Homo sapiens: one gene and its partners. The gene in region 1 interacts genetically with each later gene. Each region holds a gene or a part of one and is shown on either strand. Other genes may lie near its edges. The genes, in order: NF1, PRDX1, CA4, CTSK, CCDC144A, SYNGR3 and MARK2.

Evidence for each region.
Region 2: changes in NF1 (region 1) and PRDX1 together harm fitness more than expected from each alone (negative genetic interaction), as found in Homo sapiens cells (one large-scale study listed by BioGRID).
Region 3: changes in NF1 (region 1) and CA4 together harm fitness more than expected from each alone (negative genetic interaction), as found in Homo sapiens cells (one large-scale study listed by BioGRID).
Region 4: changes in NF1 (region 1) and CTSK together harm fitness more than expected from each alone (negative genetic interaction), as found in Homo sapiens cells (one large-scale study listed by BioGRID).
Region 5: changes in NF1 (region 1) and CCDC144A together harm fitness more than expected from each alone (negative genetic interaction), as found in Homo sapiens cells (one large-scale study listed by BioGRID).
Region 6: changes in NF1 (region 1) and SYNGR3 together harm fitness more than expected from each alone (negative genetic interaction), as found in Homo sapiens cells (one large-scale study listed by BioGRID).
Region 7: changes in NF1 (region 1) and MARK2 together harm fitness more than expected from each alone (negative genetic interaction), as found in Homo sapiens cells (one large-scale study listed by BioGRID).

The regions. Positions count from the first base shown.
Region 1 is NC_000017.11:31,335,977-31,339,476, reverse strand, and holds part of NF1 (neurofibromin), read right to left. Parts: intron 3,145-3,500; coding exon 3,004-3,144; intron 2,843-3,003; coding exon 2,563-2,842; intron 2,110-2,562; coding exon 1,895-2,109; intron 1,659-1,894; coding exon 1,597-1,658; intron 1,453-1,596; coding exon 1,338-1,452; intron 774-1,337; coding exon 672-773; intron 1-671. UniProt on the Homo sapiens protein: Stimulates the GTPase activity of Ras. NF1 shows greater affinity for Ras GAP, but lower specific activity. May be a regulator of Ras activity.
Region 2 is NC_000001.11:45,515,385-45,518,884, forward strand, and holds part of PRDX1 (peroxiredoxin-1), read right to left. Parts: intron 424-3,500; coding exon 270-423; intron 1-269. UniProt on the Homo sapiens protein: Thiol-specific peroxidase that catalyzes the reduction of hydrogen peroxide and organic hydroperoxides to water and alcohols, respectively.
Region 3 is NC_000017.11:60,148,502-60,152,772, reverse strand, and holds the start of CA4 (carbonic anhydrase 4 preproprotein), read right to left. Parts: upstream 2,801-4,271; 5' UTR 2,739-2,800; coding exon 2,681-2,738; intron 2,009-2,680; exon of another isoform or gene 1,244-2,008; intron 1-1,243. UniProt on the Homo sapiens protein: Catalyzes the reversible hydration of carbon dioxide into bicarbonate and protons and thus is essential to maintaining intracellular and extracellular pH. May stimulate the sodium/bicarbonate transporter activity of SLC4A4 that acts in pH homeostasis.
Region 4 is NC_000001.11:150,801,761-150,805,260, forward strand, and holds part of CTSK (cathepsin K preproprotein), read right to left. Parts: intron 2,480-3,500; coding exon 2,261-2,479; intron 1-2,260. UniProt on the Homo sapiens protein: Thiol protease involved in osteoclastic bone resorption and may participate partially in the disorder of bone remodeling. Displays potent endoprotease activity against fibrinogen at acid pH. May play an important role in extracellular matrix degradation.
Region 5 is NC_000017.11:16,731,741-16,735,240, reverse strand, and holds part of CCDC144A (coiled-coil domain-containing protein 144A), read right to left. Parts: intron 3,442-3,500; coding exon 3,258-3,441; intron 2,704-3,257; coding exon 2,575-2,703; intron 552-2,574; coding exon 1-551. UniProt on the Homo sapiens protein: May play a role in preventing the formation of kidney stones through inhibition of calcium oxalate monohydrate (COM) crystallization, attenuating COM-induced apoptotic injury to renal epithelial cells.
Region 6 is NC_000016.10:1,988,495-1,992,769, forward strand, and holds the start of SYNGR3 (synaptogyrin-3), read left to right. Parts: upstream 1-1,475; 5' UTR 1,476-1,608; coding exon 1,609-1,707; intron 1,708-3,479; coding exon 3,480-3,717; intron 3,718-4,141; coding exon 4,142-4,275. UniProt on the Homo sapiens protein: May play a role in regulated exocytosis. May indirectly regulate the activity of the plasma membrane dopamine transporter SLC6A3 and thereby regulate dopamine transport back from the synaptic cleft into the presynaptic terminal.
Region 7 is NC_000011.10:63,901,610-63,905,109, reverse strand, and holds part of MARK2 (serine/threonine-protein kinase MARK2), read right to left. Parts: intron 2,913-3,500; coding exon 2,780-2,912; intron 2,510-2,779; coding exon 2,328-2,509; intron 2,050-2,327; coding exon 1,952-2,049; intron 1,125-1,951; coding exon 963-1,124; intron 325-962; coding exon 67-324; intron 1-66. UniProt on the Homo sapiens protein: Serine/threonine-protein kinase. Involved in cell polarity and microtubule dynamics regulation. Phosphorylates CRTC2/TORC2, DCX, HDAC7, KIF13B, MAP2, MAP4 and RAB11FIP2. Phosphorylates the microtubule-associated protein MAPT/TAU.

The DNA of each region.
Region 1 (3,500 bases):
ACCACTTTAGAACTGGATGGTAATACCATGCCATTATCGAATCTTTTTCATTTTATTAATACAAAAACATGATTTCCAGATATCTTAAATATAAAAATGGGATAAGGTCAGACCATCCTAAAACAGTGGCCACTTCATTTTACTCCTTTTAAATATAATCTTCATTTGGCACCCAAACTCTTATGACGATCAAGTATACTTCTCCCAGCTTTAATTTCTCCATAGTAATAATCACTAACATACTACGTATTTTGTTTACTTCATTATCCATTCACTCCCCAACCTCCACACCCACCCCAGAAAGTAAGCTCCATGAAGGCAGTGAGTTTTATGGGCTTTGTTAGTACTCTATCTCTAGCGCCTAAAACAGTACTTGGCAATAGCAGATAATTAATAGTTATAAGATAAAATAATTAAGAATATATACCTATCTTTCCTTTAGCACTGATGAGACCAAAAACTTACAAGCGCTTGAGAACATACTATCCATACTTACTCTTCTTCTAATATGACTACTTCAAACAACTAAACTTTAAGAGGTTCTACTTTAACTATAGTTTTTTCTTTATAACTTATTCTCAATTCATCTTATTTTCTAAACTCTTTGAAAGAAAGTAACATTCAACACTGATACCCAAAATGAATGCACTCATTTTCTATACAGTAATTACCTTATTAAGAAGTGGCTGTAATTTGGTTAGTGCTATTACTGTAGCTTCTATCAGAACTTGACTGTTGTAAGTGTCAGGTCCTTTTAAGCAACTCTCAAGTGCCTTTTAGGAAAACAGAATTTTTTATTTTACTTTCATTGAAATAAAACATTAACTCCTAAACTGAATCTCGGAATGAATTCAGGAACATTTACTTATTTAATAAATGCTAGAATGATTTCTCATGCTATGGTGATCTTGGTAGCTAGCTTAATGTACATTTGTTTTCTTATTTTTTGACATTTCTACATTATAAGAGTCAGACATTATTATAGTAATTACAAATTAAATAATTTTATGCAAGGCTATAGTCTTACCATATAATTAAATGCTTTGAAAACTGGTAAAATACTAAGTGTACCTGCTTAGCAAAAGAGGCAACATATTTTATTTTAAAGACATCTTCCTTAATGAAGTAATCAGAGTTTACATATAAAGACAGCTTCTTTAGAGAAGACTTCTTCAAAGAATTACAATAAATAATCAAAATACATTTTAAAGGCTTAATAAGTAACATATAAGATATTTCATTGACCTCAAATTTAAACGTCTTTTAGAAAAATGAAAGATATGCTTTACAACTTGAGAACCATAAATATTTGGGAGAAGTGAGGGCGGAACAGGTACCTTGCTAAGAATACGGATTATCTGCTTTATCTGCCCATGAGACACTCGTTTGCTAATACACCCAAAGACAACAAGAGCTCTTGGTTGCAGGGATGGATTATATTGGAATGCAAATCTGCAATTAAAAGATCCACAGAACTTATAAAAACCTTTGTGTTTATATATACTAAATAATAAATTATAACATTGATCATACAGTAATAGCTGTATTTTCAACAATATGCATATTTTTACAACTTATATTTAATTTAGGACATACCTTTGAGCTAGTTCTGTCCACTGGTCCAGCCACTTGCACGTTGGAATATCTCTCATGCATGCCTAAAAAAGGGGATACTCTGAATACATATTGTACATAAATGTTTTTAGAACTGTTTAAATAATGTTTATTATGATGTCATTAAGTGACCTGTTACCAATAACACAGTCCATGCAAGTGTTTTTATTTAAGCATTAAGTACAAAATAGCACAATAAACCAATATTTCTTCTATATAGTATTAACATATTTTTAAAAAAAGATTTTAACTTAGTTTCTTATCATTTTGGCTTCTATACCTCCATGATCTCCAACAAAGCTTCTGTGACTGTTTCCAAGGATGTCAAAGCAAAAGTCTCTCTCTCATAGGAGCCAGGAGAGAATGACCTGTCCCGGTAACTGGAACGGAAGGCAATGACAGCAGCTGACTTGACTTTGCTAATGCCAAACAGCAAGTAAAATTTGGGTAATGAGAACTCTGTCAGACTGAGTCTCAAAACTTGCTTGGTCTCTTCTGTAAGAGAATAAAGGAACAAGTAAAGACAGAAAATATTACTTTTTAATTTCTAAAGTTCCATGTTTCATTTTGAATTTAGAAAATTTGAATACCATATAAAAATTACATAATCATGTTCCCTAAATCAAACCTCTAGATACATTGTATTAATGCTCCTTGCTTCATTTATCTACAAATTAGTGCTGGTAACTGAACATGGTCAACTGGCACTGAGTATTCCGCTTATGGGATAACTCTACATGACAAGTATGCATAGAAAATCTTTACTATAGCTTGATATGGAATGGAAGTAATTTATTTTCTTTTTGGTAATATTTCATGTCATTACTGGAGGCTTAAATTAGCAACTTGGTGTTAGAGCACAAACATAAATAAGATAATCTATATTGATCAGGTGAAGTAAAATGGAGAAAGGAACTGGTAAACACAAATTCCTTTCCTAGAACTTACCACTAAAATGAAGCTGTGAACAAGTACACAGAGAGTGAATGATATTAATGACCAGTCCATGTGTGGAAGCTCTAAGGGAGAGCGGACCTGTGGCTACTAAGAAAGTAACAACGTGGAAGAGGTAGGGAAGATGAGCTGCCACATCAAGGGAATTGTTGAAGGACAGCATCAGCATGTAGCGTGCTAAAATAGCAATATCATCCCACATAAGATGTTGTTCTAAAGTAGGAGTTGGAGATAAGCATGTCTTGTCAATTATTTTGCACATCCTTCCAATAACCTGTAAAGAAGCAGGATTTTTTTTTTTAAAAAAAAAAACATGGGACTCAAAGTTTTAGCACAAAAAAGTTCAGTTTAATTTAAAAGTAATTACAAAACAAAAAACCTCCTGATGATAAAACAGATATGCTATAGTACAGAAGGCAAAAGAAAAGTGATTACCTTGCTTGAAACCAATTTCACATTTCCAGAAGCCAAAGCTACAGCAGTATCTGCCATCACCTCAGCTTTTATTGATCCCAAGCCACCTGTTGCACTGGTTTTGATGAAACTGTCTAGTACAACATCAAGCAGATCTGTAATCTAGTTGAAGAAGGAAAATAACATGTTTTTAATCACTCTACCAATTTAATTTTTAATTAAAAAATATTCATTGGAACAGCCTAATCAATATGAAAATTCTATTTTACCTGAGGCCTCAAAAATACTAGATTTTATTTACAGGCCTGTCAGTAAATACAATTTATTATAAAATATCCAGTAAAGGATGAGTATATTCATTTGACTCCTTCAGAGATTAAGAGATTGGTATTCAAAAATTTTAAATCTCTATCAATACTATCTTCAGTCACTTGCAAAGTATCTCTATGCTTTTCTAAGACAGTAATGTAGCATCAATATAAAATAGTAATTTGAAAATACAGAGCTGGGTGCAGTGG
Region 2 (3,500 bases), on another chromosome or scaffold:
GTCAGGAGATCAAGAACATCCTGACTAACACGGTGAAACACCGTCTCTACTGAAAATACAAAAAATTAGCCAGGTATGGTGGCAGGCGCCTGTAGTCCCAGCTACTCAGGAGGCTGAGGCAGGAGAATGGCGTGAAACTGGGAGGCAGAGCTTGAAGTGAGCGGAGATCACACCACTGCACTCCAGCCTGGGCGACAAAGCAAGACTCCATCTCAAAAAAAAAAAAAAAAAAAAAAAAGTTCACATGCCAAATAGACCAAGAGATTTACCATGCTAGATGACAGAAGTGAGAATCCACAGAAGCACCAATCACTTGGCAGTTGAGTTTCTTAAATTCTTCTGCCCTATCACTGAAAGCAATGATCTCCGTGGGGCACACAAAGGTGAAGTCAAGAGGGTAAAAGAAGAACACAACATATTTTCCTGGGGGGAAAATCGGAGTCATGGTTAGCATTTGACACAGACTTCCTTGCTTTATATTTTCCTATACAAAAAGAAGCAAGTTGATGGCTGACACAATAACCACTAACTGCCAAGATGCTCAATACAGATGTCTCCTAGAAGCTACTTTTAGAACCTGGTGCATTAGGAATACCTGAATGAAAAAAACTTCCAATCCCATACTTTATTCTCCTGCCTCCATGTCATAGCTACCAATACAGAGTAAACACTGTTCAGTCTAATTTTGATCTTTTCTGAGTGGCTAAAATTAACATAAACACCAAGTTCTCCAAAGATAGCAAAAGCAAGGATGCACTTATAAGCATGGCCTAATGCCAATGCTTAACAATACCCAGAGAAAGCTGAATTGCAGTACTCCTCTGCTGTAGAGATAAGACACCAATAAGAAGTCACAGCCTTTGCACTTCTCCCGTGATGAACCATAGTAATGGAACAAGCATGGTTTAAGTGATCACATGTGTTCCTAACGTGCCTGACAGGACAGGAAAAATTTTAAGCCAGGCACAGTGGTGCGTGTCTGTAGTCCCAGCTACTTGGGAGGCTGAGGTGGGAGGATCCCTTGACCCCAGGAGTTTGAGGCCAGCCTGGGCAACACAGCAAGACTGTCTCAAAACAACAGAAATATATATATACATATACACAGAGAGAGAGAGAGAAAGAGGGAGACAGAGAGAGACAGAAAAGACAAAAGTACTAGTGAGTAACAGAACTTCTAGCTGCAATTTTAATGAAGTCACTGGGATTAACCACTGAAATAACAGATCTTCAAACTGGCCAGGCAGCCTTCTCGCCACACCCACCAGGCTTAAATACTAGAACAATTCCAAATATTCACTCATTTCCAGGTAGCAGCAATGTTTGAAAAGTCAAACAGGCTGGGTGTGGTGGCATGGTGGCTGACGTCTGTAATCCCAGCAGTTTGGGAGGCAGTTTGGGAGGCCGAGGCGGGTGGATCACCTGAGGTCAGGAGTTCAAGACCAGGCTGACCAACATGGTAAAACATGTCTCTACTAAAAATACAAAAATTAGCTGGGTGTGACAGCGGGGGCCTGAAATCTCAGCTACTGGGGAGGCTGAGCCAGGAGAATCACTTGAACCGGGGAGATGGAGGTCGCAGTGACCTGAGATCATGCCACTGCACTACAGCCTGTGCGACAAGATCAAAATTCCACCTCAAAAAAAAAAAAAAAAAGCCAAACAAGCAGCCCTTTTTGACATTTACCACTTTGCAGTATCACTGGAAACTAACTCATCTAAACAACCCTTCCAGCTTTGCCTAACAAGCACTTTGGGGCCTCAGCAGGTCAAGCTCTGGAGGGCAGAGAACAGCTCCTCCTAGACCTCCTGCTTATACCCCTGGGCCCAGGTCACCTCCCTATGGTGCAACTTACCTTGTTTGCTGGGAGAAGCCCCAAGAACAAAGTGTGATTATGTCAGGAAACCTAGTCAAATGTTCTACCAAAAACTAACTCCAGGGACTAATGCTACACCACTGAGAAAAGGACACTTGACACCTGAGTTTCAGGTTAGCATTCTAAGGAATCTATATCCTCAACTGTCCCAGGAGATCGAGCTGCTCTGGAACTACAAGGTAAAGAAAGGAGGAGCCTCAACAGAACTTGCCAAGTGTCTGCATGAAACTATGACAACAGAGGCCGGGCGCAGTGGCTCACGCCTGTAATCCCAGAACTTTGGGAGGCCAAGGCAGGCGGATCACAAGGTCAGGAGATCGAGACCATCCTGGCAAACATGGTGAAACCCCGTCTCTACTAAAAATACAAAAAAATTAGCCAAGCATGGTTGCGGGCGCCTGTAGTCCCAGCTACTCAAGAGGCTGAGGCCTGAGAATGGCATGAACCCAGAAGGCGGAGCTTGCAGTGAGCTGAGATCGCACCACTGCACTCTAGCCTGGGCGACAAAGCGAGACTCCGTCTCAAAAAAAAAAAAAAAAAAAAAAACTATGACAACAGAAAGGAGAGTTGTTCCATCTGTAATATCAACTCTCCTCCGGGGTCAAAACAGGCAAGGGAAAGTGCCTAGCCCTCAGCCTAATATTAACAGCTGTGATATATACGTGACCCAAACAAACTGAACGAGCAGTGTCACAGCTCCAGAGATTTGAGTGAGCTCTGAGACTTTAAATGTAGAATGTCTCTTATAACAAGAGATAATGAGTATTTCTCCAATAATAAAATAGAGGAGGGCCAGAGGCAGTGGCTCACACCTGTTATCCCAGCACTTTGAAAGGCTAGGGCAGGCAGAGGGCTTGAGCCCAGGAGTTGGAGACCAGCCTGGGCAACATGGCGCCCAGCTCTACAAAAAGTACAAAAATTAAGCCAGGCGTGGTGGCTCATGCCTGTAATCCCAGCATTTTGGGACGCCGAGGTGGGCGGATCATCTGAGGTCAGGAGTTCGAGACCAGCCTGACCACCATGGAGAAACCCCGTCTCTACTAAAAATACAAAAAAAAATTAGCCAGGCATGATGGCGCATGCCTGTAATCCCAGCTACTCGGGAGGCTGAGGCAGGAGAATTGCTTGAACCTGGGCAGTGGAGGTTGTGGTGAGCCGAGATCACGCCATTGCACTCTAGCCTGGGCAACAAGAGCAAAACTCCATCTCAAAAAAAAAAAAAAAAAAAAAAAGTACAAAAATTAGCCAGGCATGGCAGCATGCCCCTACAGTCCCAGCTACTTGGGAGGCTGAGGTAGGAGGACCACCTGAGCCCAGAGAGGTAGAGGCTGCAGTGAGCCATGACTGCGCCACTGCACTCCAGCCTGGGTGACAGAATGAGACCCTGTCTCAAAAATAAAAATAAAGAAAGAAAATAGACGAGGAATACTGAAAAGATAATTGAGCTAGTATGTCCAGACATAATGAAGCATGTGGTTTCTCCAGAAGTGGTTTGGTCCTAGGATATATACCCTGTAATCACTTGATAATCACCACTTCAACATGAAGGTAACAACCTAAATACTTCTTCCTAGGAGACAAAACATTTTACAGTCAAACAACATTGACACAAATCTAACAAGCCAC
Region 3 (4,271 bases), about 29 Mb from region 1:
CAGAGGGCATTTGCACCATGACAGTTCCTTGCCATAATCATCCCATGTCCCCACCCGCAGAGGTCTTGAAGGAGGAAGGGGTTTTGAAGATTGGGCTGGCCTCTTCTCTGACTGGAGGGCCCGGGGGCAGCCATTCCAGGAGAAGCCTCCCTTCAGCCAGCATCCCCAAGAGCCAGCTGCAAAGGGTGGAGCCCCCTGTAACTCGCCTCACAGCCTCCCTGGGGCCCATCTGGTCCAGGCTTAGCTTTTCTTAGGAATTTGGTCTTCCCTGGCTCTGGCCGCAGCTCCTAGGTTTGTAGTGGTGACCTGTGATCCACTGTCTTAATCATGGAGACTTTTGACCTGCTTGGCTGAACGCACTTGTAACTACCTTCTTCAGGAAGCAGCAGCCAGGAAAACATAATGGTGGTGAGGTCAAGGCCAGGGGTCAGGTCCATGTCGGTGGATGAGGGTGGGGTGCTGGTGGCAGGAGCACCCACCACTCAGGTTCCTGTCTTCGTTGAATGAGAGGGCCACCCTTGCAGGTAAGTACCAGCCCACTGACTCAGGCCACTCCCAAGAGGGCTTGGGAAGGAGAGGGGCTACCTACCCAGAGGTCTCGGTGTCCAGCGCCACATCCTACCTAGTCCATCCACCCTGACCAGAGGTTAGAGACCGAAAGTCAGTCGCCTGTCACCCAGCTACTGCCCCCCACACTGACTGACCTGCCACCCCTCCCCCTTATTTCAAGATGGCTGAAGAAGCCTCTCTAATGGACCTTGCTCACCCCACCTCCCCCTCTGAGGGACAGGGGATAATCCTGAAAAACAGCTCAGCACAACCCAAGTGTTTCCTGGGCAAAGTCTCAGTCGCTCCCGGCCAGGGGTCTGGGGCTCTGAAGGGGACCAAATATCCTCACCCGGCCTCTTGTCTCAATGGACAGAGATGCTCTGGGGGTCGCCATATGCAACCTGGTCCCTTCTCAGCTTGAGTCCTCCATAAGATGAATGGAAGGCAGGTCCCAGTCAGAAAGCCTTGGCACTAAAGGGGATAGCAGCTTGTGTGAGGGGTGAGCTGAGACACATTCCTGACACTGGCCCCAGGCTTGGGGGAGAGCCCCATAAACTTGGTATATGACACACCAGCCACGTGCCACACAGGCACCGCACTAATCACTTAAACCCATTATCTTATTCAAACGCTTAAAACCCCTGAAGTCAGAATGACAACACCTGTTTTGCAAATGGGACAGGAAGTGACTTACCCAAGACCACACAGCTACAAAGCACCAGAACTGCAAAGCATTTCTCTTTCTACTTTCTAGCTGCTTAGTAGGTTTCCAATGTCCAACCCTACAAATAAAAGTTTCCACATTCTGCTTTTTCTCTTTCTTCTCCCAGGGGCCCGGTGGAGAGGCTGCAAGGTGCCCCTCGACCCTCTAAGACAGCTCAGCCAGTCCCTGCTGCAAAGGGCACACGCTGGCTCCTCTCTGTGCAGAGGACACCTTCACCCCTCACTCCGCCGCTTTGAGGATGGAGCACCTAACTTGGGAGAGGAGGTTTCAGCCTGCGTGGACCCCAAGAACCATCCGAGGGGTGGTTGGGCTGAGAACTGGCAGAGGGGGTCTTCCGGTGATGGGGTCTGGGGTTGCAAAGAAGGTGCCTCCAGGATCGGATCCCTGTGCCCAGCCGCTTGAAGCGCCTTTAGCTTCTTATCAAATATTAACATGCCTTTCCTGCCACCTCCCACCTAGAGGAATAATTAAGAGCTCGGCTTCACCATTAATCTTTAAACGAAAATCACCCTGTCCGGAAAGACCGGCTCCGCAGAGGCCTTGGGGCTCCGGGTCCCCCACCCCCCGCCCCCGCCAGGCTCCCAATTCAGCGCTGGAGGTTAGGGAGGCCAGGGGAGCTTGCGACCCTCAGGGGCAAGGAACCCGTGTGGGAAGCGCGGCTTCCAGGACCCTGCCAGACCGCCCTTGCTCTGGCCGCGGGGCAGTCACCCAGCGCTGAGTCCCAGCGGGACGGACGGAAACCCACGGGCAGACGGAGGAGGCTGGGTGAGAAAAGAAGGCGTGCGTTGAGGCGGGTCCGAGAAGCATCCTTTTTTTTTTTTTTTTTTTTTTTTTTTTTTTTTTTTAAACGGAGCACCAGGCTGGAGTGCAGTGGCGTGATCTCACTGCAACCTCCACCTCCTGGGTTCAAGCGATTCTCGGGCCTCAGCCTCCCGAGTAGCTGGGATTACAGGCGTGTGCCACCACGTCCGGCTAATGTTTGTATTTTTGGTAGAGATGGGATTTCACCATGTTGGCCATGCTGGTCTCGAACTCCTGGGCTCAGGTGATCCACCCGCCTCTGCCTCCCAACGTGCTGGCATTTCAGGCTGGAGCACCCGCGCCCGGCCTGAGACGCATCCTTATCAGGGACTCCCAACTCGTCTCGCCGGGCCACGCGCACACACCCTCACCGCGCACACCCGTGCACACGCTCCCCCAGCCGGTGCTGACACGCGTGTGCACACACAAGCTCGCGCGCTGCCCAGTCCTCCCGCACCCTCGCGGCCCCCGGCGCACACGCAACCCGGGACCCCAGCGCCACCGACGCTCACCGGTCGCCCGCGGGGGGATCCTCTGCAGGGGCGGGAGCTGGGGGCACGGAGGGGACCGCCGAGGGGCACCTGGGGCCGGAGCCCGGGAGCTCACCTGCACTGGCCGATGGCCGCGCCGCGGAGAGGGCCAGGAGCGCCAGCAGCATCCGCATCTTGCGGGACAGCAAAGAGTCCTCTGAGCCGGGGGTCGCGCACCGAGGAGGCCGCCGCGGGTGCAGCGATCCTGCCGGCCTGGGTTTTATAGCGGAGCCGCGACGGGAGGGAGCCCCGACAGCTGGACGCGGGAGGCGGCTCCTCCCCCTGGCGGGGCCTGCCCTCCCCTCTCCACCTTCCCCTGTCCCTCATCTGAAATCCTCCGCTCTCCCCGGTCCCCCGCCCTGCCTGGCCACCTCTTGCCCTGTGCGCAAGGCCCCCTCACCCACTCCGCGTCCTCTCCACTCAGCAGCGGCGCCCTGCCCCTCCCCCATCCTACTCCTGGTCCCTGGTTTGGGAACAGGGACACGACACCACAAAGTGCTTGACCCACACAAAGATGAGTGCCCCATGATGACTTTGATCATTCTGGCGCCACCCCTGCGCAGTGGTCTTGAATGGGACCTTGGAATGGCCTTGGGGTGGGGGTGGGGGTGGGGGTGGAGATGGCCTCGAAGAGATGAGAGGCTGAGGGGCGTGTGATGCCGTTTGTTGAATCAGTGGCCGCAGAAAGGCTCTCCTATCTCTCTTTGGCAGTGGCCATTGATTCTCTGGGTCTCATCTCTTCTATTTCCTCCCAGGCTGCTCCAAACTTAATTTCTAAGCAGACCAAAGACCTTTCTTCGAATACAGAGCAAAGCTGTCCCTAAACTACTGCCCTTGCTGGTGTTTATGTGATGACCAGGGAGGGTTGATGGGGCAGAATTAAGAAATGGATTGTAAGAGGATTCGGTGAGGGAGAAGCTGATGGGGTCAAAGGGGAGGAGCTAGGTTCTTTGAGCCCCCCAGGTGGAGAGATGAGATGGGAAGAGAAGAGACTGGGGTCTGAATGGACCCCTGGTTCTCCCATCTGGCAAGACCTCCAGAGGAGTCCAGGGGAAGTTCCCTTAAGGGCGGCTCCAACATTTGGGGAAATGGGGTCCCCCCCATGCCCCCAAGCTGCCTCTTGTCTCCTCTCTTAGCTGTGCCCTCCTGCTACTGCAGGTCCTCTGTGTCCCACATGGGGTGGGGGCTTCTGTGGGAGTTTGGGAAGCTCAGGCTGGGGTGCGGGAGAGGGACGGGGAACCAGGCAGTGGACCTGGACCTCCTCCATCAATCCATCAACAGGAAGCCCCCTTTTTCTGGTTTAGCCACTCCCCATCCGCTGCCAACCTCTCAGTCCCTACCGACCTTCGAACCTGGGCTAGGGACTTCTGAAGGGGGATTGCCTCCCCCAGAAGGATTCAGGCAAAGATGCTTCCTCCTTGCTTAGGGTTGAGGCTGACTCCCCGCTCCTGGCCCAGGATCACACAGCCTCACAGAGCAGCTTTGATCCTACAGAGAGGCAGGAGGGAGGTGAGGGGGTGTCCATGCCAGGCTTAGGGCTCTATTGTCAACACCACTGTATAATGTAATCACCAGCCTGCGACCATGACAGCCACAGGAGGGATTCCACACCCAGAGCCTATTCTGGGGAGTGCATTTGTGTTCACAGGGCTATAAAAATGTCCCTT
Region 4 (3,500 bases), on another chromosome or scaffold:
GATCTCCTGACCTTGTGATCCACCCATCTCAGCCTCCCAAAGTGCTGGGATTACAAGCGTGAGCCACCGCGCCAGGCCTATTAAAATTAACTTTTCTAGATTGAAAGACATCATAAAAAGAATGAAAAGACAAACCTCAACTTTTAAATACATAGTATTGTATCCAAATATTCTCTTTAAACTTTTAAGAATCGCTAAGAAAGAGAAAAAACAATCCAATTAAAAATGAGTAAGGGGTGGGGCATGGTGGCTCACACCTGTAATCCCAGCACTTTGGGAGGCCGAGGCGGGCGGACCACCTGAGGTCAGGGGTTCAAGACCAGCCTGGCCAACATGGTGAAACCCTGTCTGTACTAAAAATACAAAAACTAGCCGGGCGTGGTTGCGGGTGCCTATAATCCCAGCTACTCAGGAGGCTGAGGCAGGAGAATTGCTTGAATCCAGGAGGTGGAGGTTGCAGTGAGCCAAGATCGCGCCACTGCACTCAAGCCTAGGTGACAAAAGCAAAACTCCATTTCAAAAAAAAAAAAAAAAGGGTAGGCCAGGCATGGTGGCTTACATCTATAATCCCAGCACTTTGGGAGGTGGGAGGATTGCTTGAGCCTAGGAGTTTGAGACTAGCCTTGGCAACATAGCGAGACAATGTCTCTACCAAAAAAAACGGTTGTTGTTTTTGGGGACAGGGTCTCACTCTGTCACCCAGGCTAGAGAGCAGTGACATGATCACAGCTCACAGCAGCCTTGAACTCCCAGGCTCAAGTTGTCCTCCCAACCAGCCTCCTGAGTAGCTAGAACTATGCACGCCATCATACCTGGCTACTTTTAAAAATTTTTTCTGTAGAGATGAGGTCTTGCTATGTTGTACCAGGCTGATCTGGAACTCCTGGGCTTAAGTGATCCTCCCACCTCAGCCTCCCAAAGTGCTGGGATTACAGGCATGAGCCACCATGCCTAGCCTCTACAAAAAAAAATTTCAAAGGTTTTTTGAAATTGGTGGGCATGATGGCATGCACCTATATCCTAGCTATTTGGGAGGCTGAGGCGAGAGGATTGCTTGAGCCCAGGAAGTGGAGGCTGCAGTGAGCTATGACTATATCACCACACTCCAGCCTGGGCAACAGAGTAAGACCCTATTTCAAAAAAATAAAAAGAAAAACAAATGAGCAAGAGATAAAAACAGTTAATTCACTGAAGAAGAAATGCAAATGGCCAGATAAACATACTGATAAAAAGGTGATTGAAGGGGATTTCTTACACATTGCAGGTATAAATTTTTCCAAATATTTTGGCAAACAATTTGACATTGTGTAGTAAAGTTGAAGACAGACATACCCTAAGACCCAGACAATTCAGTTCCAAGGCATTATATCCTAGTAAGAAATTCTTGCACATGTGCATGGGAGATATACCTAGGAATGTTTGCAGAAGATAAACATCCCTGGTAGATACATCTTACATTGTTACATACTAGTGGTATGAATTATACTGTCTTATCTCCTTAAGTGTCCATTTCCTCACCTATACATTCAAGATAAGTCTACCTAACAGAGTTGTTATGAGATTAAATGAAAAAAAGAAAAAGAAAAAATGCACTAAGGACACGGCTTAGAACACAGTAGCCATCATTTTTATTCTCAAACTTGCTGTCCCTGTTTCAGAGGTTTCTGTTGTGAAGGCCCTACATTATATTGTCTATCAGACCCAGCCCTATGTGTATAAAAAACCCCTCAGGTTGCCTCCCTTTCAGATATGATTTCCTTCCTATGACTAGAGGATCATGCAGGAGGAACTGAGTTAATCCCTTATCTCTTATATGAAGCAACTTGTTTTTTCTCTCATTTTATAGATGTTAGCATGTAAACTTACATAATTTGCTGAAATGTTCTGAAAACTCACACTGAGATCATATAAAATAAAGCCACACAATTTGTGAAAATAGCATGGTGGGTTTGTGGGTTTGTTGTGGGAGTGAGGAATTGAGCAGAGGGTTATAGAACCCAGCTCGGAAGTCTATGGGGTAGGTAGCCTAGCCTCTGTTTTCTCTCCATGGCAGAGATGCAAATAGGAGCTATAGTAGCTTAAGCTCCCTAAATTCCCCCAGATTGTGGAAATCTTCTTGGCCTTCTGTGGGAAATTATTCCATCAAGAAAGCAGGATAGGATAACAGAAAACAGTATTTCTGGAATTGTTTCCAGTACAAAACATCATGCTGGGGAAGGAGGAGCCAACAGAGCTGTATAATTGTGTGGAGCAATCTCACCTGTCCCACATATGGGTAGGCATCTTCAGAGTCAATACCCCGGTTCTTCTGCACATATTGGAAGGCATTGGTCATGTAGCCCCCTCCACAGCCATCATTCTCAGACACACAATCCACTAGGTTCTGGGGACTCAGATTTAAGAGTTTGCCAGTTTTCTTCTTGAGTTGGCCCTCCAGGGCACCCACAGAGCTAAAAGCCCAACAGGAACCACACTGACCCTGAAAGGCATACAGAGAAACTATCAATCTTTGCTGTTTACATTTTCTATATCTTCTCTCTACCTGCCTGAAGAAATTCCATGTGTTCTAAAAATTTCAGCACAAATGTTGTCATTGTTGTGAGTCTTCCTCTTCCGCTTAATATCTGTTGCACTGTTCTACTGCTATTGATTTTTGCTACCATTTTTACTATTAGCTACAGTAAAGCAGAGCACAGTACCAGCTGTGGAGGCATTTGTCCTGGGTGCTAACCCTGACTTTGCCACCCAGTAGCTATGTGACCCCGGGTAAGTTACTAAATTTGCCTGTGTCTCAGTTTCTCTATGCATAAAATATTGTTATAAGGATTAAATATTTAACTCATGTAAAGAGTTAAGAAGTTCCTGACAAACAATAAAATCTCAAAAAGTATTAGCTATTATTGTTTGTGCAGCTAGATTGTAGATTTTTCTTTCTTTCCTGTTCTATTTTTTTAGATTGAGATTTCCTGAGGACACAGGTTGTGTCTTAGTCATCTTGAGTCTCTGCTGCCTAACACTGCATCTGGTAGGTTCTGGGGGTCAAAAAGTGTTTGTTAAATGAACGTTAAATCAATTGTTTATCTTGCTGATACAATCCTGTGTTGTTTGGGTTGTGAAAAAACTGACATTCTCATGCTAGTAAGAATGTAAGATTGCAAAAACTTTTTTGGGCTGGGCATGGTGGCTCATGTCTGTAATCCTAGCACTTTGGGAGGCCGAAGCGGGCAGATTGCTTGAGCCCAGGAATTTGAGACCAGCCTGGGTAGCATGGCAAAACTCTGTCTCTACAAAAAATTTTTTAAAATTAGCTGGGTGTGGTGGCATGTGCTTCTAATCCCAGCTACTAGGGAGGCTGAGGTTGGAGAATCACTTGAGCCTGAGACGTTGAGGCTGCAGTGAGCCATGATTGCGCCACTGGACTCCAGCCTGGGTGACAGAGACGCTGTCTCAAAAAAAAAAAAAAAATTTGGGGGGGGGGAAAGGATTATTTGTGACCTAAC
Region 5 (3,500 bases), about 15 Mb from region 1:
CTTGTGTTATGGAGCTGAATTTGTAGGCTGTTAATTTTACTTTCAGCATTAGAAAGTTTTTCAGAAAGAATCTCATTCTTAGCTTGTAGGCCAGACATATCAACCTTCATTTTGTCATGTAAACGAACCCACTCTTGTCTTGTTCTCTGGAAATCAAGTTTTAGGTCTCTTGCTGTCTGACTTTGATCACAGTCACGTACAGCAGCAGCTAGTCTACAACGGTATGATTCCATTTCTATTTCTAGTCTTTCTTGGTTCTGTTTCCCATTCTCCAGTTCAGAATTGAGTATTTTGTTCTCAGCTGTCAGATTGTTCAGCTGTCCACTGTACTGGAGTATTGTTTCTGTTAATGTTTCCTCATTTAGTTTTATAATTTTTTGAAGGTTATCATTCTTTTCTTTCACAGCCTCAATGTCCTCAAAATATTTCTTTTCCTTTTGCTTGTTCTGATTTTTTATTGTATCTATTTCCAGTCTCAGCAAGGCAATTTCTTCCTGCAACATGCAATCTTCATGAAAGAGATCCTTTTCTTTCTGATGCCTATGAGAAATCTAAGTAAGAAAGGAAACATTCAGTAGCACTCAATAAAATGACAGATTATGATTTTCTCTGAAATTAAATAATGTATACAATGAAAAGATTGCCATAAGTGGATATCCAACTGGAAAAAAATATTCTATCGAAACTTCAAACCTCATAGAGCATAAATTCCCAAAACTTCATAAGTTTATTTGAAGACAATGAATCCATGAATGTAGAACATAAATAACTAGAGAATTTTTAAGCATCTCAGAATTGGAAAAGACGGTCTCCAAATTACAACAAACTCAAAGGCATTAAAGATTAATAAATTTGACTACATTAAAAAATTGGCTTTACACTCTGACATCTAACCTATACACCACCCTATAGTAAAAGCTGTAGCTTTGCATATATCTGGACAGAGGAAATGTTCCAACGTTCTTTAAGTTCTTTTTTTCCTGAGAATATTCTATAGCTATTTATTTTTCTAACATTTTTCTCATCAGTTATATAAGAATTACATTTATTCATAAATGCTAAATCTAAGCATTATATTAGGCTTTTTTTTTTTTTTTTTCGAGATAGGGTCTCCACTCCATCACTCAGGTTAGAGGGCAGTGACGCAATCAAGACTCACTGTAGCCTTGGCCTCCCGGGCTCAGGTGATCCTCCCACTTCAGCCTCCTGGGTAGCTGAACTAGAGGCACACACCCCCACACGCAGCTAAATGTATTTGTACTTTTTGTAGAGATGGGGTTTCGCCATGCTGCCCAGGCTGGTCTGGAACTCCTGGGCTCAAGTGATCCACCCACCTCGGCCTCCCAAAGTGTTGGGATTACAGGCGTGAGCCACTGCACCTGGCCTTGTACCAAGCACTTGTACATGTATCACTGAACTCATTTATACACAATTCTGAAAGGAGAGGTCAAAAAATATGCAAGTTGCAGGATTTTCCCTAGGTCCCCTTACTTTACTTCTAGTGCTCTTCCACCAAACCACAATTACTTCTGTGTTGTGTATATATAAATATAAAAGAGGCTTATTTCAAAACACCAGTGGTAAAAAAAGAAGTTACAGAGCTTTTCTTAGAAAATCATGAGATTATCTGTTATTACAATAACTTAAGTTTCCTCTTTATAATGTCTGAAACAGAAATAAGCATGAAACAGGGTGAAATACACTGAACTATTTTTCTTTTCTTTTTTTTTTTTTTTTGAGACGGAGTCTCGCACTGTTACCCAGGCTGGAGGGCAGTGGCCCAATTTTGGCTGACTGCAAGCTCCGCCACCCAGGGTTCACGCCATTCTCCTGCCTCAGCCTCCCGAGTAGCTGGGACTACAGGTTCCCGCCACCACGCCTGGCTAATTTTTTTTGTATTTTTAGTAGAGATGGGGTTTCACCGCGTTAGCCAGGATGGTCTTGATCTCCTGACCTCGTGATCCACCCGCCTCAGTCTCCCACACACTGAACTATTTTTCTAAGAAAAAACACTTACCAATAAATTATCACCAAGTTTATATTATGGCATATCATTGTTTTCAAAGCTCTTTGCACTGAAATGAGACGCTACTTGGAGCAAACTGTTACTCTCCTCAAAAGTAAGGGAAACGGCATCTGAAGTACGGCCTCTGAACTGGCTATACATTTCATCCTTACTACAAGTGGAAATAATAATCTAACCTCTCCATTAATATATTAGGAAGATGAAATAATGTCTGAAAACTAGAACGTCTGTTGTTAGTAGCAAGGATTTTGAGATTGTGGAAAGATCATTAATTCTATGAAAAATAACAAATGTTTCTCCTTTGGATAAGGCCACTGTGAATGTCACTACTTGACTCTTGCAAACAAATGGAGTTGAATTAAGAACATGACTTTATTCAATGAGCCAAAAATGCCAGAACCACCATCACCACCCCCAAATGTGTGTGTGTGTGTGTGTGTGTGTGTGTGTAGTTCAAAAATCCATTGTACTTTCCAAGTTGCACAGAGTTGTTTTTTAAAAATATATTCACATACAAAAATATATTTGAAAATGACTAAAGAAAATACCTCAGAATTCATTTTCTTTCGAGCCATTTCTAGTTCCTTTTGTTTACTCGTCAGAATCTGATCTTGTAATATTCTGGCATCCTGTTCTTCAGAAAGTTGCTTCTGGGCATCGTTTCTCTCCTGCACAACCTAGAGATAACATGGAGGTTTTGGTCTAATAGCACTGAAAAAGAAAATCTAAAAGGTTAAGAGCAGAGCCTCTCTTATAAAACGGTTAAAAAGAAGTAGCCTGTTAAAACACAAGAACTTTTATCCCTCAAGAATCACTCAAATCTTAATTGCATACATGACAGCTAAATCTGTCAAAGAGGAAAAACAGTTCTTAACTACGAGAAGATACAGCATTGTGAAATAAAATTTCTTTCAAAACATTTAACTAGTGTCCTTATAGTTTCAAAGCTATTTAGCCTGTATTTTAACATAAAAAATGTGTAAATGAACAGCTATATTAGTGATTAAACTCAACTTATCCTCCACTCTAAAAACACAGACTGAGCATCTATTAGATGACAAGGTTTACAGTAAATAATTTTATCTATAAATGTCATAGTTCATTCTTAAGAGGAAATAACAGTTTTGGTTTATTTTAAACCTAAATGATATACATGAAGGCAAAAAATTATAAGTAATACCGATGAAACATAAAGTTAGAAAAATGAAGTTTACACCAAAGATTAATTTACCAGATCCAAGTTATTTCTTACTGTCCTCAATTCCTTAACAAGTCTTCTCAGATTCCATTTAAGTTGTTGCTTTGTTTCAACCACTTTCCCACACTCCTCTTCTTTTATTCTTAACTGTTCACTATCTTTATTATACAACATATCGGCATTTCTTTTCTCCTCATTTTCTTGTTTTAAGGCAAGTCTGCAGTTAAACATGGATTACATTAAAATGTGTTTTGTTAAAAAATAAAAAAGTTTATT
Region 6 (4,275 bases), on another chromosome or scaffold:
TTGCAGTGAGCCAAGATTGCGCCACTGCACTCCAGCCTGGGTAACAGAGTGCGACTGTAACTCAAAAAATAAATAAATAACTAAAGAAATAAATGAGTCGACAGCAGCATCAGACTTGCCCTTGGGATTGGCACGGAGAGGTCAGTGGCAACCTTGAGTTTAGGTGGCGGTGGGAGCTGATTCTGCCGGGTCAGAGGGAGAGAGAGGAGGGTGTTGCAGGCAGAGTTTGCTGCTAAAGGAAGCAGTAACGTAAGGCAGCTGGAGGGGAGGTGGGGTCAACAGTGTTTGGCTTTTAGGAGAAAGTGCAGCATGTCTGGGTGCTGATGTTAGTGATGAAGTAGAGAATGAATGACACAGAGGGGAGGTCTGTGGCCAACAGGTGAGAGGGGTTGTGATCGGACGCACAGTGTGATGGACTTGGAACACAGTGAGTAGCGCCTCTGGCAACACCTGCTCTGCCCACCTGTGCCCAGCAAGGCTGAAGAATGAGCTCCAGGGGGGCTGGGCCACGCAGCACCATCTGTGCACCCGGCTCGTGTAGCAGGGACCTGGGTTGCTTATTATCTGAAGTACAGGGTGGTAACAGTCTCCGCCACTACACAGGTCAAGCGCTTGGCGCTGTAAATGTCAGTGCAGACATCTCAGTGCTCTAGACAGAAACCTAGGAGTCATCTGAACTTCCAGCCTGCTAGGAACATGAGGAGAGGGACCTTGTTGCACCCAAGGCTGGGGTCTGTGGAGGGGACTCAGCGGGACACAGGGCAGCCAGGCACCACCCCCACCCGACTCCTAGTCTCTGATGCCGCTCCCTGCCCTCCATTCCAGACTAGGCGCCGCAAGTACGCTGGGGAGACCCAGGAGTAGGGAGGGCATTGGGAGCACCACCACCTGGCCACGGGCAAGGAGCGGAGACACCGAAACCAACACTCCCAGCGGCGCTGGCCACGGTGGCTCTGTCCCCTCCCTCAACAGGTGCTCCTGGGGCCAACGCCTTTCTTCCCACCAGATCCTCCCCGCCAGAGGCTAGAAGCTGTGATAGCAGCTAGAGCACAGTGGGGGGCCATGAGAAAGACCCCAGTTATCCATCTGGTCTTCTTGGGACCAGGGCCAGGGAGCCGGTCCCCTCTCCCGTGGGTTGGGGGAAGATGCTGCAGCCCGTGGACCTCCTACCCCTTTACTCCCTCACCCAAGTGCCCTTCCCAGAGGAGCGGACTCCTCCTGTCTGTCCTCCCGGCTCTAGCAAAGTCTGCGCCCAGCACCCGAGCCCCACCCTGCCCCCGGGGACCTGGCTGGTGGGTTCCTGAGGATGGTCTCCATCTCGGGACCGGGGCAGGCAGGTGAGGGTGGGGGATGGGAGGTGGGCGCGGCGGAGGGAGAGGAGGGACCCGGCCCCGCGCGCATGGACCCAGTGGGGGGCGCGGGCGCGGCCCCGCCCCGTCCCGCGCGTCCCCGCCGCGGCCGGCGCGCGCTCCCGGGAGGCGGCAGCGGCTGCAGCGTTGGTAGCATCAGCATCAGCATCAGCGGCAGCGGCAGCGGCCTCGGGCGGGGCCGGCCGGACGGACAGGCGGACAGAAGGCGCCAGGGGCGCGCGTCCCGCCCGGGCCGGCCATGGAGGGCGCCTCCTTCGGCGCGGGCCGCGCAGGGGCCGCCCTGGACCCCGTGAGCTTTGCGCGGCGGCCCCAGACCCTGCTCCGGGTCGCGTCCTGGGTGAGTGGTCCCTGCCCGGGCCCCCGCTCCCGCCCCTGCCTCGCGACCTTCAGGCCCCTACCAGCCCCCTGCCCCCTACCCCCTGCCCCCTGCTTCTCGCCCCCCGACCTCACTCACTCTCATCCTCGCCGGCCCCTCCCCCGCCGGCCTCAGGTTGGGGTGACGTCACCGGGCAGGGCGCGCCCACCTGCGGGCGGAGGAGGGGCCGGCGGCGCCGGAGAGGGACCTTGAGAGGTCACCGCCGGTCGCCTCTACCCCTACCTCCTCCCCGGGTCTAATTTCAGTCCCTTTCCGCAGCCCTTACTCCGTTTTTCCTGTTCTCGTGACCTGGAAGCAGGGACGGGGTGGGGACGGAATTCTCCGAGGGGCAGGAGGGGGCTACGGGAACCGAGAAGCGCCTCCCCTTCCCCCGCACACACACCCTCGGGTCTCCTTGGCAGGGAGCCTGTCCCCTGGCCCCCAGTTCCAGCTGTGAGTTGAGGGAGGAGAGGCTCTGGGCTGGGAGGGCTTCCTGGCGGCGGTGTGGAAGGCAGGTTTGGGAGCAGCCTAGCCCACTGGGGCGTCCCTGGGAGGGCCCTGCTGCTCCTTCCCTCCGGCAGGGGAGGTGGCAGTTGGGTGCCGAGCTCTGGGTTTTGTCCAGGTGGCAACCTCTGGGCCAGCCGCACCTCGGCGCCTGTCTTGGAGGAGGGCGGTGCCCACGGTGGGGCAGGGGCTTTGGCCTCCCCTGCGGAGTGGCTCTGACCAGACCGGGAGGCAGGACGCTGCGTTTTGGTCCGAGCGCACGTCCCGACTTGTGGCCCACTCTTGGGGACAAGTGCATGTCCCGGCTTCCCCCTTGGCTCCACTCTCGGAGCTGGAGCGGGAAAGGAGCGAAGGGATGAGGTTGAGGCTGGAGGTCGTTTCTTGGAAACACAGGGCTGCCCCGTGCAGCGCTGGTTAAAATGACTGCGGTCCCCCTCATGCCTGTCTCCCGGAACTGGTGGGCAGGAGGCATTGAGGTTTGACGGAACCTCAGAGGTCAACGGTGTCATCTTTTCAGCCCAAACACTTACAGGTGATATTAATAATCAGTCACGTGGGGGCTGTCATCCCTCGGGTACCCACCACGTGCAGGAAGCTGGGTGGACATGTCTGTCCCAGCACTGCATGAGCTGTGCCCGTCACCCTATTTGCATGCTAGAAAACAGGCCAGACAGTTCCCAACCGCGCAGGAAGCAACAGCTCCGCTGCCTCCATACCCTCCCTCCCGCCCCGCTCTGCCTGCTGCACTCTCACCTCCCCTTCGCCGTTCCGGCTCCAGCCTGGGAATCGCGGGCCCAGGTGAAGGCTCCTGTTCCCACACTCTTGAGTGGGCTCTGAGGGGACTCCACGGGCCCACGCGGTGCAGAGTACCTGGCTTGAATCAACCCCGGCTTTTGTCAGCCATGTGATCCCGGACAAGTCACTTCACCTGTTGGGGTCCCAATGTCCCCCGCATTTATAAAGAGAATAAGAACAATGGCGATCCCACGGGGACTTTCTGAGGATTTGGTGAGGGGACGCATGTAAAGTGGCTGTTTAACACAATGTCTGGGCATAGTAGATGCTCACTAAACGGCCCGTGTTGTCAATAATTACTAAATACGCGAGGGTTCGGGAAAGAAAGAGGTGACACCGCCCCCCACCCAGATACGGGCCTGGGAACGCAGGGACAGGCCCAGGGGCGTGGGCGCTCGAGGCGGGCTCGCAGAGGTCGGGTCGCCGCAGGGCCCTGAGCGCCGCGCCGCACGCAGGTGTTCTCCATCGCCGTCTTCGGGCCCATCGTCAACGAGGGCTACGTGAACACCGACAGCGGCCCCGAGCTGCGCTGCGTGTTCAACGGGAACGCGGGCGCCTGCCGCTTCGGCGTCGCGCTGGGCCTCGGAGCCTTCCTCGCCTGCGCCGCCTTCCTGCTGCTCGATGTGCGCTTCCAGCAAATCAGCAGCGTCCGCGACCGCCGGCGCGCGGTGTTGCTGGACCTGGGCTTCTCAGGTGGGCGGGGCCGGGGCGGTGAGCGCGGAGAGCCTTCCGGGTGGGCGGGGAGGGGGCGGGGCCTGGGCGGGGAACACCGCTGGAGTTTCCAGCTGGGCGTGGCCGTGACGAGGGGCGGGGACTGAGGCAGGGAGTGTCAATGGGCCTCCCGGGTGGGCGGGGAGGGGGCGGAGCCTGGACGGGGAGCGCCGCGGGACTTTCTAGGTAGGCGGGGCCCGGGTCTGGGCGGAGCCTGGGCGCGGAACGGGTCTGGCGCTCCCGGGTGGGCGGGGTCAGCGCAGGAGAGGGAGGCGGGACCTCGCGCCACGCGGCGAGCCCAGGCGAGGCGCCCCAAGCCTCGGGCCCACCGACCTTTCCTCCTCCGGGCGAGGCCGCCGTGGGCCACCGCGTGGAGCGTCGCCCTGACGCGCCGCACTGTTCGCAGGACTCTGGTCCTTCCTGTGGTTCGTGGGCTTCTGCTTCCTCACCAATCAGTGGCAGCGCACGGCGCCAGGGCCGGCCACGACGCAGGCGGGGGACGCGGCGCGGGCCGCCATCGCCTTCAGCTTCTTCTCCATC
Region 7 (3,500 bases), on another chromosome or scaffold:
ACCCACCCCGAGTAAAGCAGGAAGGCCTGGCCTGAGCCTCTCTGCCACCCAAAGCTCCTTGCTTACCTGCGTACAAACTTGGAGGTGAACTTGCTGAAGATGCTCCCAGAGGCCCCCCGCCGGCCCTGGCTGTGGCCAGAGGGAGAGGCTGGGGTCACACCGTAGGGCAAATTCTGCTGGTCCCGCACCTGTCGGAGCTGCCCAGCATGGAAGGTGCTTCGGCTGGACACACCCCGGGGGAAGTTAGTTCGGTCTGGGGCTCCACCACTGCTGCTGATGTTGTGGGCGGATGGGGAGGCAACAGGGACACGCTGGGGGGCTGTGCTGTGGGAAGAGAAGTGGGGTTGAGGGGGACGAATTAGGGTACAGGACAGCCATCACTGGGCACCTGGACACCCTGTGGTGGGGACAGGGAGGGGGATGCTAGGGCAGAGGCAGCCATCACGAGGACACAGAAGGAAGGGTGTGACTACTGAGGACAGTGGTGAGAAGGAAGTCTCGTGGAAGTGGAAGGAGATGGTTTGGGAAGGGAGGGAGGGAGGCAAGGAAGGACCCCTGTGTGGAGTGTGGTTTAGGCTGGAGACAGCGGGCTCCCTGGGAGCCGGGCAGACTGGACCCTCAAGGCGGCAATGGGGACCAACCCTTGAGGATTGAGTCCCTGTGATGCCGACTATCCCCGGGGTCCCTAAGGAAACCCTGGAAGGTTCAGAACAAAAAGGTTTCCCTTTGGAGCCTTAGGACAGCTTCCTGCATACCTGTTCTGAGAGGGAGAACTGGAAAAGAGGGGCATTAATGCTCTTTTTTGTTCCCTCCACTTCCTGGCCGCAGGGGACAGACCCATTTCTTGTGGCTAAGATGACAAGAACACAGCAGGACCCCCAAGTGGGAAGAAGAAATTGTTGGGGCAAGGGGGTAGGGTGGGCTGAGGGCAGCAGGTGCACCAGCTGCCCCAGCACACTTGCCTGGGCCGCGGCACCTCACAGTTACTCTCCGTGGGGGGCAGCCCAGAGGCCTTGTTGGGGTGCACGGAGGCCGACATGGATTTCTGGTGCTGGCGGGGCCGGGCCGCAGAGACTGCGGCAGAAGCAGAAGCCGTGGAGGCCCGGGACCCTGGCATGGTTAGGCTAGGAAACAAAAGCAGCGGAGAGGCCCGTGTTAGGGGTGAGTGAGGGCGGGAGGCCTGGATTAGGAAGCAAGGGCAGGGGAAGGGCCAGAGCTGGGGAGCTCTGGCAGGGTAGAAGTCAGGCCTGGGCAGCAGCGGGATGCAAGTCAGAACTGAGGAATGCGGGGCTGAGAAGTGGAGGTGAGTGAGGTCGGGAAGCAGCGAGGTGGGTCAGTGCCTGGGAAGAGGAATCAGAAATGAAGGAGAGCAGACAAGGGGCCGCTGCCTCCAGGCTGCACTGGCCTCCTAAGAATTTTAAGAACAGGAGAGTTTCTTCTACAGAAAGAGTGGGGTGTTGCTGAGGGGAAACTTTCATAAACTCAGAAGAGATAGAGCCAGGAATGCAACACCAAGAAATGCGGCCGGTGAAGGCTGGGGAGCTCTGGTCTCATGGGGATGGCTGGAGTCGCCCTCTATGTGTACACCCCTCAAGGTGGGCATCTCTTGGTTCTGCCCTGAGCTGGGACCCCCAACACAAGGCCTTAGCTGCTCATGTCTAGAGGAGGGCAGCTGCCATGCCCTGGCCGTGGTCAAGAAGCGAGCATGTAGCTGAGATGGCCACGGTCAGCCCCACACTTGGCAAACTGCAAGTAGCAGTCAGAGGAAGATGGGGAGGAGGCAATGGCGTGGAATAGGGGAGGGGAAAGCTGGACTGGACACAGCCAGGATGGAACTCCAGGGAGCAGGGAGCAATGCGCTGGCAGGGACAGGAGACGGTGCTGCTGACAGACATCACCCTGTGAGACATGGCTCCTAGGGAGTGAGGCAGGCAGGGCCCGGGTCTCTCACCTGTCTTTGCCATTCTGGATGGAGGCCTGGCCGAGGCTGGCCCGCTCCAAAAGTGGGGAATTCCTGCTTCGATTTGTGCTGGTGGAGAGGACGCTGTTCTGTGGGGAATAAAGGGCAAGCGTTCTATCAGAAAGCCAAAGTGGTCTACAGCCAGGTTCTCCCCCCAGGTTCATGGAACAGGCTTCCTGTCCCTTCCACCTGAAGCAGACAGTGGTAGGTTAAGGAAAGGATTCTGCATTTACTGCTGGGAGCGAGGCTTCCTGCTATAAGCAGAAGTAGTAGCCAAAGGGAACAGAGTCTGAATTAAGAGAAGAGCTGCCTGGAGAGGGCAGGCCCCACCGCAGGAAGGAAGGAGAGAGCGGGGGGTGCGGCTCACCGTGGAGGGGGTTGGGGTGGTCTTCTTCCTCTCCAGACCGGGCAGGGGGCTGGCAGGCACCTTGGCTGTGCTGCTGGCTTTCCGCCCTGACTCCCGGTCCTCCTCAGGCCGCTTATTTTCTGCGTTGTTACTCTGAGTCTTCTTAGAGTAAGAATTAGAGGTGGGAATGGCAGGACCAGCTGCTGGGCCAGAGGGAGGATGGGAATGGGTAAGGCCAAGGGGTCCACTGAGTGCCAGCCCCACGCATGCTCATTTCCTACAGGGCTGGCCAACAACCCAGCAAGCCCCCATTCCACAGAGGCGAGGGAAGGGAAGTGGCTTGCCCATAGCCACACTACTAATAAGTGGCTGAACCAGGACTGAAACTTAGTTGTGTTACCCAAGTCCCCACAGAACCTGTAACCTCTCTGGAGAGGGGTGAGTCCCCACCTACAACTCCCAAAAGCATTTACCCTGGTCGCTGAAGCGCCGCTGCTTGGGATTGGCCGACACGCTGCGCTGTACCTTGTGGGATGGGGATGGGGCGCTGCTATTGGTCAGATCAGCTGAAGGCCGGGGTTTCAGGGTGATGGTGTCGCCTTCCAGCTGAAAGAAACAGAAAACAGCTTCAAGGGAGGGCAGAAGTCATGTGGAGATCCCTATGGATGGACACATTTACACATACCGCCCTCTCCCAACACTCAAACACCCCAGGATCATACCGGACATCCACTTGTAAGACCAATACATCCCCCCTGGAGGAGACCCTGGAGACACACATGCTCTGACACAGACACTGACAAACACAGTCTCAGAAAGGAATACATAAGCCCACACACCCAGAGACACAAACATCCGCAAGAACACATGTCCAGACTCAAGTCCACTCCCCTCAACACAGAGCAATATGGGCCTATACCAAGTGTCACCAGGTGCCTCTTAAGGATCCCACCACCAGAGGGAGAGCAGGGCAGGGAGGCTGGGAGTTCATGTGGGGATACTCAGATGATGAACAAAACCCAAATGGGCAGAAGAACAATCACAAAGTCTCCAGATCCACAGACGGGAAGACGGACACATACACACACACACACACACACACACACACACAGATACACACACCCAAACATAAAGCACTAGACAGAAGCAACAGACTCAATAGCCGGGTATGGTGGCACATGCCTGTAATCCCAG